Linked DNA regions of Homo sapiens. The protein of the gene in region 1 interacts with the protein of each later gene in a biochemical or structural test. Each region holds a gene or a part of one and is shown in the gene's direction. Other genes may lie near its edges.

Region 1 (3,915 bases):
CATCCCCTTATTGTAGCCAAAGTGCCTTAGAAAACAAAAGAGGAGGGCAATCTGAAGTAACTCATGATAACCTCATGTTTCCAGAGATTGTACATACTATTTCAAAGGGGGCACACATTATTATAAATTCACCTTCAACTAGTAGCATTTCAGGTAGCTGATAAGAGCGGGAAGTGAAAAACTATGTATGCAGCAAAAGAGTATATATTTTTGGACAGAATAGGAGGCCACAGATTCTACTAAGAGTTTGCCCCCAAAGTCAGTACCCCAGTATAGAATATATTTTCACAATTTCTTTTCTTTTCCCATATTTTAATCCATAGCTTAAAAGGGGAAAAAAAGCAACAAAAAATAATTGGCATTTAATAAATCCTTGCTGCCTTTATTTGTCAAGTGATGAAACCAAAGCCTAGGGCAACAAATATGAAGTCATATAACAATGGCAGCCCAGAGAAGGGAAACCTCCAAACTGCTAACTCCCAGGCCAGTACAATTTATTTTTGATACCTATAACCCAATTCACCAATTGATTTTTCTTTTCTGTTTAAGGCCTGCCTGAATGAAGACGAAACTGATTAAATATGGCTATAAACCCACAGGAATTTGACCAGGCAAAAATTTTCTTTTTTAAACAGAACCAACTCCTATCTGAAAATGGCTTCTAGAAATAATTATTTAATAAAATAATTTAATCCATGTCTTTGTTTCATAGTAACAGAAAAATATCCACCTCCCTTTCCTCCCAAAATTCAGCTGCTGCATATCAGTTTAATTGTACTACCTAGCAGTTCAAAGAAATTGGCTTTTCAATGGACATTAGAATCTAAAACTCCTAGATTTAATGGGTCTGTCCTCTGAGGCCCACAAAAGTGCAATCATAGAACAATAGGGTCAATACATTTCTTATCAAGGGTTCACCTACTTTGATATCACCCATTCTTGGAAGGGAACTCAGGTCAAACTGTTATCAAACAAATATATAAATAGATAAACTAAATGAAGCTAATGAAGAGACCACAATCAAATAGTCCTGGGAAAGACTATTAGCTGGCCTTCTTCAGAAATAAACATGCAGGGAAAAATTGAGAAAGGACAAAGGAGAAGGTCATGCACCTCTAAGAATAGAGCAAATAAAGATATTAGTTTAAGACAACGGTCCTCCAGGTAAATATAAAAGCTAAGTTCTTACCACCAACATGAACAAGTGAAATACACTTATTTGATGGAAAACTTACGGGCACAAAGCAATTGTTGACCAAATAGCAGAAACCAGTCTACAAAAATCATAATTAAAAATACAAGTATAATTCTGTTAATTAGGCATAGAAATTTATAATCTCCACGTCTTACAATTGTCCAGTGTTTATTCATGTACCTAAATTAAACTAAAATAATTTCAATCCAGGCAAACCACCCTGAAAGATTTTTTTCTTAAGATGTTTATATCTAAACCCATGCTCAGATCAGCAAAAACATTTAGAAAGGAAAATATTCTATTAAATTTTTTAAAAACATTTTATTGGGGGATCGTTAAATATAAATAATCCATTTTAAATAATATAAACACGTAGCAGAAGTACATAAAACATACTTTCATTTTCTAAAACATAGAGAACAGTAACTTCTTCGCCTCCAAAAGAACAGACCATTTAATACCATTTAAAAAAATCTTTTGGCATTCCTATTGCCCTTCCCATAACTAAATGAATCAGTGACACGTGTATATATATACATATATTGGAGATGGAGTTTCGTTCTTGTTGCCCAGGCTGGAGTGCAATGGTGCAATCTTGGCTCACTGCAACCTCTGCCTCCCGGGTTCAAGTGATTCTCCTGCCTCAGCCTCCCAAACAGCTGGGATTACGGGCGCCCAGCTAATTTTTTCTACATGTTGGTCAGGCTGGTCTCGAACTCCTGACCTCAGGTGATCCTCCCACCTCGGCCTCCCAAAGTGCCGGAATTAGAGGCGTGAGCCACCACACCCAGCCCTGATGTATATATTTGAATCTGCTGTTTATTCATATGTTGAATAAACATTCACAGTTGGGATTACTGGCATACATCTTCCACAATTATAACATTATTTTAGCTAGTGAATAATAAAACTAATTTGATTTTGGTTAACTTCTTTTCAATACAGATGGTTTAAAAATAAGACAAAGCCTGTCTTTTTCTATTGTGATCTTAAAAATATCTTTCTAACATGCTTTTTAAAAAAAATACATAAGTATGCTACCACTGCCTTGTAGTAAACTTTAGAAAATGTTGAGATTCCAAAGGGCTGCCTACAAACCAAATGGCATCCTAGCTTTGGCAGGCTGATGCTTCATTTTGGCTGCTCTCGCCCCCTCTAGCGTTTGCAAAGCTCATCTGTCTGATTATCCAGTTACCTCACTGAACAAGATCTTGGCTAAGTCCTGCCCATCTATGACATCACCCCCTTCTTCAGCCACTGCGAGGTGAAGCTTTAAACTTCAGACTTGGAGGTGGGCTGTGTGCAGTAAACTGGAATGCTCTCCCTCGCTCACTCCTCAGTGTAGGAGTGATCTGAAGCAGGACAAGCTCAGCCTGCAGCTGCCGTGGGCTTTGTGTGGACTGGACGCAGAGCTTGGGAGACGGGGGAGGGCTATTACTCCAATTCACTGTCAATGGAATTACAGCTATAGCGGCAGTGTATATAGGATTGCTTTTTCTCGTCTTCCTGGTAAGTGTTTTCCATGTTTTTTCTTATGATTGTCCCAGAAAGTTTGCTTGGTTTTACTCTCTAGAAAGAAACGACTTGATACTATGAGAAATCCAAATAGGAACGTTTGCTCTGTCACCACAACAAGCAATATATGTGCGTGCAAGCCAGCAATGAAAAATTTCACTATCATGGCTGAATGTAAGAAGTTTCTTAGAACCTTCTTTCATTTATAAAAGATAGTAAGTGGCTATTTTCTGTCTTGAGTAATTGCTATGTGAAAAGAGCCTTATGGAAAACAGCAAGTTGGAAAGTTCAATGTTAAATATTAAAGAATACAAGGAGATTCTTCACAGATAGGAAAGCAACTTGGTGTGTACTGTACGTGTGGGATGATCACCAATTGCTGTTTTTACAACTGTGAAAGAAAATCAATAATCCCTCAGCCCATGAGTACGCAGTACATGAAAAGCATACATCTTGCTCACAGCTAGCCGAGCTACTCCTGGAGACTTATGTGCCTCTGTAAAGGATTAACAGCTACACCTAGATTTTAAAGCTTGCACTGCTATCGTGCCTGAGCTGCTTCAAGCATTTCAGGCTTGCAAATCTCAACTAGTAAATTGAACTCAGAGGAGGGGGAGACACTCTTCCAAACCATATTCCCTCTTCAATAGAACACCAAAATCCATTGCTTAGGCAAGTGAAGTATGTGACTAGCATAGTAAATGGCTAAGTCTACTCAGAAAAACTAACAAAGCTCACCCTGGAAGCTATGCCTGATGTATGCAGTGAGTTTGGGGTAGCAGGAAAGAAAAATAAATGAGTAGAGCCCTTATCAAGTGGGTTTTGCAGAGGATCCATTCTTTGCAACTTATAATAGGAAAATCTTATATTGGAAGAAATGCATTTATACTACAAAGCTTGAAAAAGTAGTTAAATGTATCTTCTCAAAAAATTTTGTTCACTGAATTAGGTCTGAAACAAAATGGTTGCATATAGGTAAAGAGTGCAACAGGCCCATCCATGTCTTCTCAACATCTGGGGGGTTTGTTTTTATTATTTTATTTAGAATTTAAAAGAAAAAAAATTGATTTTTTTTTCAATTTTTAGTCCAAAATCTCTAATGGTTTTAATAATAAGGCTATTTTAAACATTCTTAATAAATCTGTCTATTAATAAATCTGTCTAAAATGCTCATCTATGTTATTTTATTATCCAGAAACAACATA
Region 2 (3,915 bases), on another chromosome or scaffold:
TGTATGTGTTTCCTGGCAGTAGTTAAGTATCCAAATATCTATTTGTCTTGGGAGTCATCTGCCTATTTGTGTTTTTAGTTGTGTGCGCCTGTGTGTTTGCTTTTTTTAGGCATACATCTTTGGTATGTGGGTGTCTCTGGAGTCGGGTGCCTATTTGTAGGTGTGATGTTTATGGGAGGTGAAACATTGCACCTGTTGTCTTTGTTGTATGTTTTCGTGTGTGTACCTTTGCAGGTGTGTATGGGTGGGTAGTTGTGTGTGTGCATGTGTATTTGCAAGGTGGAGTTGGTTTGGGTGTGCTGAGCTGTTGACTGTCTCATCCACTGCCCTTGCTAGGGCTGTCAGAGGCCAAGCTAAGCAACCTACCTTTGCCCACAGCAGCCTTTCTCAATTGATGGAAGTTCTTCCCCCAGGGAGTCCCAGTCCACCTGTTGCCACCCTCCTGATGCTGGGTGCCCAGTCAGAGAGGGTTAGGGAGATGTGCTGATGGCATGCACGACCTCCCCTAGATACTCCAAGACCCCGGCTTGTGAGGGGAGTGTGTGTGGAGAGGGTACTAGTCCTGCCTTCACCTCACCTCTGGGGAAACAGCTAGGACAGTCCCCTTCGCACAGCCCAATCCAGCCCCAGGGAAGGTGTTCAAGTGAGGCTCCCCCGTTTAGAGGGTTTCTTTCCAATCCCATCTCCCCCATCCCCTTTGCTCAGTCACTCAGTCACTCCAAGCAGTGTGATCTCCGGCAGGTGGCTTTACACCTCTGTGCCTCAGGTCCTTCATCTGTAAAATGGGATGTAAATGGTGCTTACTTCAGAGGGTTGTGAGAATTAACTGACATGATGCATACAGAGTGCTTAGCCCTGTGCCTGGCACAGGGAAGGTCTTTGCCTATGTTAGCTGATCCGCTCGTTCTGATCTCTCTGGGTTTCAATCCCAAGACACTGCCCATCCTTCAAACCTCACCTGTCCCCACGTGCTCCTTGGACCACCTTTGGGTGGTCAGGACTTTCCCCCTGGAATCAGACTGGCTGGGAGGGGAGAATCTTGGAAAGAGATTATTGACACTTGCACTGCAATTTCCACACAAGTTTTAAAATTTAATTCTATACCCCCTTATGAAATAGTTATCCTTTTCCTCCATTTTACAGATGATGATGAAGGGAGCAATAGAATTGTTAAGTAACTTGTTCAAGGTCACACAGTAAATAAGGGGCAGAGTCCAAGTTTACACTGAGCCAAAAATGGCTGTCCCACTGTCAGGTAGGAGGCTAGTTTACAACAACGCAGGATCAGAGTGCTGGAGGGGTTTCCAGGGGTCTGGTTAACAGTTCTGCCGGAGATCATACAGACAAGCAGAGCCAGCCAGGATGATCCTAATCTATACCCAGCTTCATATCGCTGTAAGCCCCCGCGTAACCAGGACTTGGGTGTTCTCATTTTGGGAGCCTTTTTTTTGGAAAGACCCCCACATGTGGAAGGCAGAGCGCATACTACAGACAGGGGAGCCAAAAGTGAGAGTCCTATGTTTAATCAGAGGAGAAAGCTGACATGGCCAAGCCAAATGAAGGCGCAAAGCCAGATTTCCTTAATTTGGGGGAGCGAAAATTGGGCCGCCTCCACGTCCAGCCATTCTCCAGCGGCCGGGTTTTTCAAAACGCTGCGCCCAGCGTCTCGCGAGGACCCTCCCCCCGGGTCCCCCAGCTCTGCCGCGGCCGCGCCCAGATGGCCGTCGGATCCCCCCTCAAGGTCCCCCTGTCGGCTCCGCCCTCGGTCGCCCAGGCCCCGCCCCGGCCGCGCGCGGTCCCCTCGGTTGGCGAACTCACTCCGGCGAGCGAGCGGCGGCGCTCGGCATTGTGGCAGGCGGCTGGGGCCGGCTAGGGCGCCGGAGCCGCACGCAGCCGCGGGGCTCCGAGAGGCGCGCACTGGGGCTGGGACTGCGCGGCGCCGCCGCTGCGAGCGCCACTGAGCGGTCGCGCAACTTCGGAGGCACAGCGCCGGAGCCAGGCGAGCGCTCAGAGACCCGGAGCCAGAGGGGCGCGCCGGAGCCTCGTTCGAGAGCCGGCGCCAGGCACCCACCGCGCTCCGAGTGCCAGGCGGCCCTCCGCGCAGCGTGGCTTCCGCTGCCCCCACGGAAGGCACGGGCTGGCGCTGCCGGGCGCCGGGGAGGACGGCGAGGAGGAGGCGGCGGCGGCGGAGACGGCGGCGGCGAGACTGGGGCCAGGGAGACAGCCCTGGGGGAGAGGCGCCCGAACCAGGCCGCGGGAGCATGGGGGCCCGGAGCGGAGCTCGGGGCGCGCTGCTGCTGGCACTGCTGCTCTGCTGGGACCCGAGGCTGAGCCAAGCAGGTAGGAAGCGATCGGGTCTGGGGGCGCGGGGCTAGGGGACCCTTGCGCCTCACTCTGTCCTGAAGTTGAGGTGGTCTTTCGTCGCATCGATGCGCGCAGGAAAAGCGGCAAGGGCGCCCAAGTTAGAATGTAGATTTTACTGCCTCCCAAAGTGGGCAATGGCGCATCCACATCGCGGGAGCGGGGAGCAGGGAAGGGGCTTCACAGTAAGCTGAAAGGTCCCTGCTCGCTCCTGAAAGGGATCCCTTCTTCTCCCTGGAAGGGGTGTAGGAGTCAGGGTCTGAGTCTCCGGGAGGATCCGCCTCCTGGGGACGCCCGGCTCTCCGCGCGCCTGGCATCCGCCCCGAAAAAGAACATTGGCTACATAAGCAAGGTGTGCGCTCGCTGCCGTACGCCGGTAACTTACTAGTCTGGTCCCGGCTCGCCTAGGCTCTTACGCGCTATAGGGACAGCAATCTGCAGACTAGAGGGAGAGAGCGAAAAGACCTGCTGAACACAGGAAGCGCTTCGGTAGCCTCGGCAGGCCGGCTTGCAGGGCTCCTGAAGCGGGGAGGGCTAAGTCTTGCACACATAGCTTTCCCCGAGATCGCTGGGCCCGCAGGTCTGGAAGAATTATTATTATTATTATTATTATTATTATTATTAATTTTCTGAGTGTTGGAGAGTGTGTGTGTGTGTGTGTGTGTGTGTGTGTGTGTTGGATGCGGGTAGGGGTTCTTAGCGATCCTGCGGAGTTTCCTTTTAAATTGGTCACTGACATTCTCGCTGTCCGGGGAACAGACTAGGTGCGCTCTCCTTGGTACAGCGCCCGCTCTGGACCCACCAAGATGACTTCAGCGAACTGGTGGGCTCCGAAATAAAGTCCCTAACCCTCCTCTCTCGCCGTGGATGAATACGTTTCTCGCTCGTCCTGTAGCTGGACCCGGCGTCGCTGGCTGGGCTGCGTCTTCTCGGGGAGGCTGTGGACTGAATGGAGCCAGCCTCTCTCTGGTACCCGAACCCAAGCAAGTGGGCTGGCCACGGCTGCCGGGCGGCTCGGCTCCGGAGCCAGGTGGGGACGGGGCCTCCTGCACGGAGTCCTCTCTGAGTTGAGGCTGAGAATGGAGCAGGAAAACTGGAGCAGAAAGTGGACGAGATGACGCAGCCCTCCCCACCTCCTACCTCCTGCTGCGAAGTTGACATCCGCCCTTCCCCCCTCCATAGCCAAAGATTCCTCATTCTGGAATTAGTGATTCCCACGGCCAGGAGTGAGGGCTTGGCTTTAGCACATTCCCCACTTTTTTTTTTTTTTCTGGTGCAAGTCCTGTGCAGTAGAGTTACAACACTCAACCATTTGATCCAAGTTAATTATGATTTGGGCAGACTCTGGTATTTAAAGCAGTGTTTTGAAGTTGGAAGGTAATGATGGGGATGGGGAAGGCAGGCTGCTGAATGTCCAACCTTGTTTTAAAGGGTGCAGTTAGACGTGGGAGGTGCTTGGTTGGGGTGCTGGTTTCTGGTTGGAGGGGGTTTGAGGAGATGATTGAAGGGTAGGGTGAAGTCTCTGTAAATGGCACATGGGCAGGGTTGTGTCTT

What was found.
Region 2: the proteins of FLRT3 (region 1) and UNC5B form a complex in vitro, tested with the Homo sapiens proteins (one study listed by BioGRID).

Annotation. Positions count from the first base shown.
Region 1 is NC_000020.11:14,336,193-14,340,107, reverse strand, and holds the start of FLRT3 (leucine-rich repeat transmembrane protein FLRT3 precursor), read left to right. Parts: upstream 1-2,495; 5' UTR 2,496-2,704; intron 2,705-3,915. UniProt on the Homo sapiens protein: Functions in cell-cell adhesion, cell migration and axon guidance, exerting an attractive or repulsive role depending on its interaction partners. Plays a role in the spatial organization of brain neurons. Plays a role in vascular development in the retina.
Region 2 is NC_000010.11:71,210,725-71,214,639, forward strand, and holds the start of UNC5B (netrin receptor UNC5B isoform 1 precursor), read left to right. Parts: upstream 1-1,845; 5' UTR 1,846-2,261; coding exon 2,262-2,340; intron 2,341-3,915. UniProt on the Homo sapiens protein: Receptor for netrin required for axon guidance. Mediates axon repulsion of neuronal growth cones in the developing nervous system upon ligand binding.